Regions from separate parts of the Homo sapiens genome. Here all the other regions are linked to region 2. Evidence: fine-mapped expression QTL. A gene starts in region 2. Each other region holds a variant in brackets. All regions are shown on one strand. Distances are between the middles of the regions.

Region 1 (2,753 bases), 29 kb before region 2:
TGCTCCCAGGCTAGTCTCAAAATTCTGGGTTCAAGTGATCCTCCTGCCTTGGCCTCCTAAAGTGCTGTGATTACAGATGTGAGCCACCATGCCCAGCCTAGCTTTTCAAGTTTACAAAAGTCTTGCTAGGATTTTGACCGGAATTGCATTGCATCTGTAAGGTGAAATTGAGAGCTGATATTTTAAAAATATTAAGTCAGGCAATTCACGAGCCTGGGCTTTATCACCATTTATTTGGGTCTTGTTTAATGTCTCACAAAAACACTGTATAATTTTCCCCATGAAGATCCTCCATATGTTTTGTTGGGTTTACTCCAAGTTACTTTATGCCTTTGATGTTGTGAATGGTGTCTTTCCATTTTCATTTTCATTTTGACCATCAGAACTGGCTTCTGACGACCCTAAAGTAGAATCCTCACCCCTAGTTAGGACCCACGGGTCCCAGAGCCCTCACATCCTCCTCTCTGGCTTCCCAGAAGACCAGCTCGACAGGGGCCTCCTTGGGCACCCAGCAGCCATTGCTCTAGGTGGACCAGCGGTGGGGTGAGAGGACTCTGCCCACCCCGGACCCAGCTCCTCGGCTTCCCCTTCTAGGAGTTCAACTGAATGGGCAGTGAGAAGTGGGGACTCTCCAAGCCAGGCCATGCACCTGCTTCCCAGGGCTGGCCTGAGGCCGGCAGATGCCCTTATACCCTACCTGGGGCCCGCTCCTCTTGCCTGCCCTGCCTTACTTAACATCATAAACTTCATCCTGGAAAGAACCCTGATGTGATGGGTGGGCAGTGCCCTAGGAGGGGCTCAGACCCCAGTCCACGTAAGGAGATTCATCCTGCAGAGAAACCCCGTGAAATCCCAAGGGGAGAACATTCACCCAGTGAGTGCAATGAACTCACAGAAACGTTCAGGTCTAGGTAACCTGTTACCAACACCAGAGAATCCACACAGATAATTTGCACAGGAAGAAGCCCTGGCCAGGTGTACTGCTCACGCCTGTAATCCCATGCTTTGGGAGGCCGAGACAGGCAGACGGCTTGAGCCCAGGGTTTCGAGATCAGCCTGGGCAACATAGCAAGGCCTCGTCTCTACAAAAAAAAAAAAAATGAAAAAATTAGCCAGGCATGCCGTTGCACGCCCATGGTCCCAGCGACTCAGGAGGCTGGGGCAGGA[G/A]GATCGCTTGACCCAGGGAGGTTGAAGCTGCAGTGAGCAGAGATGGAGCCACTGCACTCCACCCTACGTGACAGAGCGAGACCCTGTCTCAAAAAAAGAAAGAAAAAAGAAACCTTGCAATGATCCTGAGAAAGGACTTTTAAATGTAGCGTGGAAGAGCTGGACAAACTGCAGCCTTTTGGTATGTCCATGTAAGTTCTAGAATTAGCTCAGAGAGTGGGTTTATGCTGGAAGGGAGCTTCCTCTACTGCCCAGCCTGTGCCACCCTGGATAAGTTACCTCTGAGTGAGTCCGTTAGTGGGTGAACATGGGAAAGATTACGTAATTGGAGAATAAATGGATTTACCACCAATGTCTTGTCATAGATTATAAGCCCGAGGGGCGGGTGTTAATTTTTCCAATTAAATTGGTGTGACATATAATTAAGGAATGTGCTCACAGGTAAGGAGCTGGGGTTTCATGGAAGAATGATTCTGCTTAGTGGCCTGACATTTTTGTGTCTCTTGCTTGCTCTGCATGCAAAAGCCTCACCGGTTCACTTGTTCACGCGGTCTCCTCGCCTGTGCTCCAAAACAGAGATTCTGGACCCCGGCCACACACAAGAATCATCTGGGGGTGATTTTTCAAAACGCTGATGCTAGATGCCAGCCCCTCTGCCCCTACCCCAGCTACAGTGGGATCTCTTAGAGGTGGGGGACTGGTCAGCATTTCTCCAAGCTCTTAGGAGTTTCAAATGAACAGCCCGAGCTGTGCCCCACTGCACCAGGGAGCTTGTGCCATCTGCTGCCACTCAGGCCCTGCCTGATCATCAGAGTCACTGGGAAGCTTCTAAAATTACAGGTTATGAGGCTTAACCCCAATGGCATTCTGTTTGACCAGCTCTTGGATGATGTCTGGAAATCCCTTTTTTTTTTTTTTTTTTTCTTAAAAAGATTCCAAACTGATTCTGATTATGAGCAGGTTTAGGAACCAATGCCATAAAGGGCGTGAAAACCAAGGTAGCAGCTGTCCCGCCAGGCAGGGAAGACCTGGGCACTCCCTAGGCCCTGCCATGCCCCACACCATCCTGGGCATCCTCCATCTTCACACCATTTGGTCTTCATTGAAGATCCCATGAGATCCTGTTCCTACCCCGTCATGCAGGAGGGACCGCTGAGGGCATCTGAACATTGTGCAGGAGGGAACGCTGAGGGCATCTGAACATTGTGCAGGAGGGAACACTGAGGGCATCTGAACATCGTGCGGGTGGGAACGCTGAGGGCATCTGAAGTTGAGGAGCTTGCCCACATCAGCAGTGGGGTGCAGGGGTTGGAATCCAGACCCAGACCCGCCTGCCTTGGCTCCATCCCACCTGCTGTCCGAGACTCTGGGCGCCTGCCTGTGGATCCAGGCTCCAGCACACCGCTCAGCAGGCCCCACAGTCCTGGGAGGTCCAAGCCCTGGAACAAAGCAAAGCGCAGGCCTGCGTCTACACACCTGTCTCTGTGGGCTCTGTTCCTCTGATGCAACCCTGACGGATCCATTAGTATGACTGGAATGTCCTTGGGATCAAAACTCACTTTTTTTTCTTCTTTAGACAGAGTCTT
Region 2 (2,753 bases):
AAGAAACTACCAAGCCAATTTCTAGAATGGCAGCACCACTTTGCCTTACCACTGGCGATGTCCCAAGCTGCTCCGCGACCTCAGTGATGCTTGGCACTTGTTAGCAGTTTTTACCTGAGCCACCTGGCAAGTGTGCAGTGGCACCCACCGCGATGCTGGCCGGCCCTTCCCTGACAGCCATCCCTTCCCGAGCCTATTGCCATCCCTGTGCCCTCTTCGGTCAAACGTCTGTTGCGGCTCTTGCCAATTTTCTAACTGGAATGTTTGTTTTCTTGCGGTAGAGTTTAGAGATTTTTACATATTATCAGCCTGGGGGCTCCTCCACCCACACAGCCCTGAGCGTCCACCCTGGCAGCTGTTGCCCGTCTGCAGGCCCCCCCGCCCTCTGCTCCGCGTGCCCCTCCAGCTCAGGGGTCCCCTCGCCTCGGCTCTCTGCACCCCTGCTCAAAACGGTCAAAGAACCCTCCCCGGCCGTTTATTTTTCCCAGAAAGTGACAATTTTCTCTTTTCAGGTCGTAAGCACAGAACTGAGGGAGAAACTGTGGCTGAACAAGAGGAAAATGAGGAAGGAGTCCATGAAGGGGCTTTGGGGAACCTGTAACATCCTCCTCAGGCTCCCGGGGACGCCCCTGGAAAGCAGGCAGAATCGAGGGCGCTGGGGCCCCCGCGAGGGGAGCGGGAGGTCGCGCGTCTCGCAGCGGTTCCCGGCCGCCGGTGACCATCGCTGCGGACACATCCCGAGGAGGGAACCCAAGAGGGCGGCGGGGGGGACTCGCGAGCTGAACGTGGAAGCAACTCCAGCCGAGGACCCCCGGAGGCCTGGAGTGCACGGAGGGGCCGCGGGCAGCGTGGGGACGGCGCCGTCATCTCCCGAAGCCCGGCCCCGCGCTGGCTCCCCGGGCGGTGCAGGGCCGGCGTCGGGAAGGAGGCTCCGAGGCGCCGGCTTCTGCGCCCCACGCAGCGCCGCTCCCCGCGCCCGGGCGCTTTGCAGGCGCGGGCGGGATCCGGGCCAGCGTGTACGCGAAAGCCACGCGCGGGCGCAGCCCACGAGGGGAGGGGCGGGGAAAGGCCTCCTCTTCGCTCCCGGCCCCGCCCCCACACGGCCACCGAGGCGTGCGGTCCTCCCGGGGCCCAGAGCGTCCCGGAAGTGCGCGCCGGCCGGGCGGAGTGGGGCGGGGCCGGACACTTCCGTCCGGCGCGCGGCGTCCTCCTCCCGCTCGGAAGGTGAGTGGGCGCGGGCGGCGGCGGCGGCTCCGGGTGCCTGGGACCAGCCCAGTCCGAGCTCGTGCGCCGTACTCCGCGGTGCAGCCCTGCCCAGCCGGGCCGTGCGGCCCTTGCAGCCGCCGCTCGCCGTGACCTTGGCCTTGGGCCAAGCCCGGGGAGCGGGGTGGGCTCCTGGGGGTCGCGGAGCAGCAGCGGACCGCCCCGCCCAGCGGCCCTGGCGATAGCGGGTGTCCGTTCGCAGGGCGCCTTTCCCAGGCACCCAGTGACGGCAGCTGTCGTCATCGCCACTCTGCAGATGGGAAACTGAGGCCCGGAGGTCCCGCCGCTCCGGAGCGAGGAGCCGCCGGACCCCAGCGCCGCACCGCCGGGCGGACGCGCTCTGTGCCGAGCTCCCGGCGATTGGGTCCGCTCCCACGGGGCTGGGAACAGAGGGGCAGAGGATGCTTCCCCCGAGCCGCTGGCAGGAGTGCCCTTCCCCCTTCAGTCTGGAGCTCAGAGTTTGTGCGTCCCTGGGGGTGAAGGGGCGTCCACGCTGTGATGGTCGCCTCTGCTCAGTCCTGGGGGCCAAGCCAGGGTCGGGGTGATCGAGCAGGCCCTTTTACCAGGTGTCCCCAGTAAGTTAACTAAGTAACTTGAGATGTGACTTCAGGGTGGAGGACCTGCACCCAGTGGCCACCTACCTGGTGACCTGACCCTTCCCATCATTAGGGGATGGAGGCTGGCCCAGAAGCCGGGCACTGGGGTGGCGGCCGTGTGGGAGCTGCCTCTCCCACTTCCTCGAAGCAGGCACTGTCTGCTGTTCTTAGATCTGAGTATCCGTTAACTTTTGTCCTCTTTTCCCGTTCCTTTCTTCACTCCCTGCCCCAGATTAGGAGTTCCTACTCTATCACAGTATGAAAGAAAAGTCACTTTTCACATTGGACTCAAGCCGTTTTTGCAAAGTAAACTAAGAAGTGTCTTGGAGCCCTGAGTGAGTCTCCCAGTGCTGCTGCAGGGCTGGACTAGGGGATTCCAGCCTGCAGTCTCTGAGGGCTCTGTAGGGTCTGAGGAAGAGAGTTGCCCTCTGGAAACGTCTCTTCTCTGCTGTTCGGGAAAAACCTTATTAAGATTTCCTCCAAAACACTCATGCGCAGCAGGCATGGTTCGGTTTTCAGCCCTCCCACAGGGCCAGCAGCTGAGGTTTTTCTGGAAGACTCCCTATGCCTTTCTCTGGGGGAGGGGTGATGCCACGGGCTGGAAGGAGATGCCAGAGCCTCTGCTGGGACAGGAGCTTCGCTTCAGCCCCCACAGGCGTCTGCTGTGCCGCCCAGGCGGTGGCTGCTTCCTAAGCGCGCCTTCCAAGGCGTTACTCCTTTGCTGCTGCTGCTGCTGCTGCTGTTGTTTGAGTCTTGCTGTGTCTCCCAGGCTGGAGTGCAGGGGCGCCATCTCGGCTCACTGCAACCTCCACCTCCTGATTTCAAGCTGTTCTCCTGCCTCAGCTTCCCAAGTAGCTGGGATTACAGGTGCCCGCCACTGCGCCCAGCTAATTT
Region 3 (2,753 bases), 41 kb before region 2:
TTTTTCTTTTTTTTCTTTTTCTTTTTTTTTTTTTGAGACGGAGTCTCTCTCTGTTACGCAGGCTGAGTGCAGTGGCGTGACCTCGGGTCACTGCAACCTCTGCCTTCTGGGTTCAAGCAAGTCTCCTGCCTCAGCCTCCCGAGTAGCTGGGACTACAGGCGTGCACCAACACGCCGGGCTAATTTTTGTTTTTTTGTTTTTTGGTAGAGTTGGGGTTTTACCCTGTTGGCCAGGCTGGTCTCGAACTCCTGACCTCAGGTGATCCTCCTGTCTCACCTCCCAAAGTGCTGGGATTACAGGCATGAGCGACCAGGCTCAGTCCTTTTTTTTTTTTTTTTTTTTTTTAACAAATTGTTGTTTTCAACATGTGCTTTTGCATAGGCAGAGAAAACTGTCTGGAAGCGGGAGCAAACTCCTGGGAATTGCTTTCAGAGACAGCAGTGGGGAGGGCGCTGCTTCTCACTTGAGGTACTGCTCTTTCATTTGGATCTTCTCGGCAGGCATGCTAATTCTGTAATGAAGAGTCAATGTCAATAAAAGAAAAGATGTATGTGGCTGAATCCCCACAGCAACTAGGCCCCTGCTCTCCTGTCTGGGGCTTGCAGGAGGCCTCCAGGGAGGTGACGCTCCACTGAGCACTGAAGTCAGGGAAAGAAGGGCGGGAAGGCAGCGCAGAAGCAACTGGGAAGGGGTGGGGCTTCCAGGAGAGACTGGGAGCCCCCCGCAGCCCAGCAGGCCTTGGGGTGCTGGGCAGGGTGCTCCATGCTGGACCAAGGTGAGTGGGCGCCCAGGTCCGGGATCTGGGATGTCAGCCGCAGGAGCAAGGAGGTGGTGGTAGGAGACAGCATGGCCCTGAGGGAGGCCCCCCTTGCCCCCAGCTTCCCCTACTGCGGTGCCCGTGAGTCATTCCCGGGTTCATTCCACAAACCTTCCCAGAACTCTGTGCCAGGCACTATGTGGGAAGTGGGGCTGGGGCTGGGGGAGACGCATCTTAGTGAGAACATCCCAGACCCCACAAAGCCCAGGCTGGTAAACACAGGCACAAGCGGAGACAGCCGTGTGGTACAGGGAGGCCTGCCTGGAGGAGGGGGTGCCCAGCTGCCTGGCCCCCTGCATCCTGCGCCTCCCCACATGCAGTTGGTCCCCCTGAAGTCCCTCCTGGGTGCTTTGGGAATATGTATGAAGGGCCCCGAGGGCCTTTCCATACTCCAGCCCCACCTCTGCCCTGGACTTCTCTCCCCAGCCCAAGCCCCATGCTTTAGACCTTCCTGACCCAAAAGCCCCTCCTGTTCTGAATGAGGAAACTGAGGCCCAGGCAGAGGAAAGGACTCAGCTTTTTGTTTTCACAAAGGTTGCACAAGTGATGCAACTTTCCTCACAACACGACGTGGGGGCCCCCAACTTGCAGGCCAGTGCCCCGCCCCGCAGCAC[G/A]CTCCTGCCCCATCGTTGTATGGACTTAGCACCCCTCACCTTGGCTCCCCCGTCCCAGGCCCAGGCTGGGTCTTTGTGACGGTCTCATGCAATCCCACACAACTTGTGAGGTTGCTGTTGCACTCCATTCTGCAAAATGCGGAGGCTGTGAGGAGACCTGTTGGAGCCAGGATTCAAGGAGCTTTCTCGGCTCCGGAGCACAGGGCTGCCTCTCCCAGGGTTTTCCAAATTCTGGGCTCTGCCTGCTTCCTCTGTCCTCCAGTGAGCATCCTGACTGCCCTGCCCTCTCCATCCTTCTCTGACCCCCAGGCTCCTTCTGTCCTGCACCCATCAGCTCACAGTTTTATGTTGCTGCCGCCTGGGGTCCTGCCCAGTGTCCCAGTTGGTGGGAAGCTCCTGAAGGGCAGGCCGGTGCAGGCACAGCTCTCTGAAGAAGGTTCTGAAGTTGTTGTTAAGACTGCAGTGGCCGGGCGTGGTGGCTCACACGTGTAATCCCAGCACTTTGAGAGGCCAAGGCAGGAGGACCACTTGAGCCTGGGAGTTCCAGACCAGCCTGGGCAACATAGTGAGACACCATTTCTACAAAATAAAAAAAAAAATTAGCCGAGCATAGTGGCGCAGGCCTGTAGTTCCAGCTACTCAGGAGGCTGAAGTGGGAGGATCGATTGAGCCCAGGAGGTTGAAGCTGCACTGAGTGAGGATTGCACCACTGCACTCCAGCCTGGGCAACAGACTGAGACCCTCTCAAAAAAATAAAATTAAATTAAATTAAAATTAAAAATAAATAAATAAAAGAAAGAGACAGAGACTGCAGTGAAAGAGAATCTGCAGAGAGGAAGGGGCTGTGTGTGACTTTGCATCCACAGGATTTTAATTTATGGAGGTGACTGTGCTGGCACAGAGAGGCCAGTGCCATGAGAGAAGTGCCGTCATGCCTGGGAGGATGTGAGGATGAGCGATATGACAGGAATGAGTGTGGGGTCAGCCCCAGGCCACCTAACAGCCAGGCCAGAGGTTGCCTGCTGGCACCTGGGCTCTGACCTTGTGTCTGAGCCCCACAAGACTCCAGGACCCTCTGCACCCCAGGCAAGACATGCCTACCCACTCGGTCTCCTTCAGAACCACGGACAGTGCCGGCGAGCACCACGCGCCACTGACCTGAGCTTCTAGTTAATTCCATATGGTGCCTCTGCCTCCTCCAGACTCAGCTGTCACCACGACCTGGCCAGCAGCAGGACCACCGGCACCCAGGTCTGACCTCAGGCTCCATCCCCTGCTGGACCCATGGGACCTGGCCCAGTGGCACCAGAATACCTGGGCCC

Direction of the effects. Alleles are on the strand shown, and positions count from the first base shown. SD is a standard deviation of normalised expression in the study named. Not every link is listed here.
In carriers of allele G in region 3, the expression in atrial appendage of the gene that starts at base 1,185 in region 2 tends to be lower than with A alone (small effect, 0.25 SD a copy in GTEx).

The links. PIP is the estimated chance that this variant, and not a neighbour inherited with it, causes the effect.
Region 1: its variant is fine-mapped to the expression of GLI4 in whole blood (TOPMed, PIP 0.94).
Region 3: its variant is fine-mapped to the expression of GLI4 in atrial appendage (GTEx, PIP above 0.99).

What each region holds. Positions count from the first base shown.
Region 1 is chr8:143,236,861-143,239,613 of GRCh38, forward strand. No RefSeq gene overlaps it. Among named protein-coding and RNA genes, the nearest start is that of ZFP41, 8.7 kb to the right of the region's middle. The variant G/A (reference allele first, on the strand shown) is at 1,168.
Region 2 is chr8:143,266,261-143,269,013 of GRCh38, forward strand. GLI4 (GLI family zinc finger 4) reads left to right here and starts at 1,185. Exons shown (of 4, transcript NM_138465.4): 1 at 1,185-1,224. RefSeq lists silencers at 651-1,360, 1,521-1,640 and an enhancer at 2,201-2,753.
Region 3 is chr8:143,225,034-143,227,786 of GRCh38, forward strand. No RefSeq gene overlaps it. Among named protein-coding and RNA genes, the nearest start is that of GPIHBP1, 13 kb to the left of the region's middle. The variant G/A (reference allele first, on the strand shown) is at 1,432.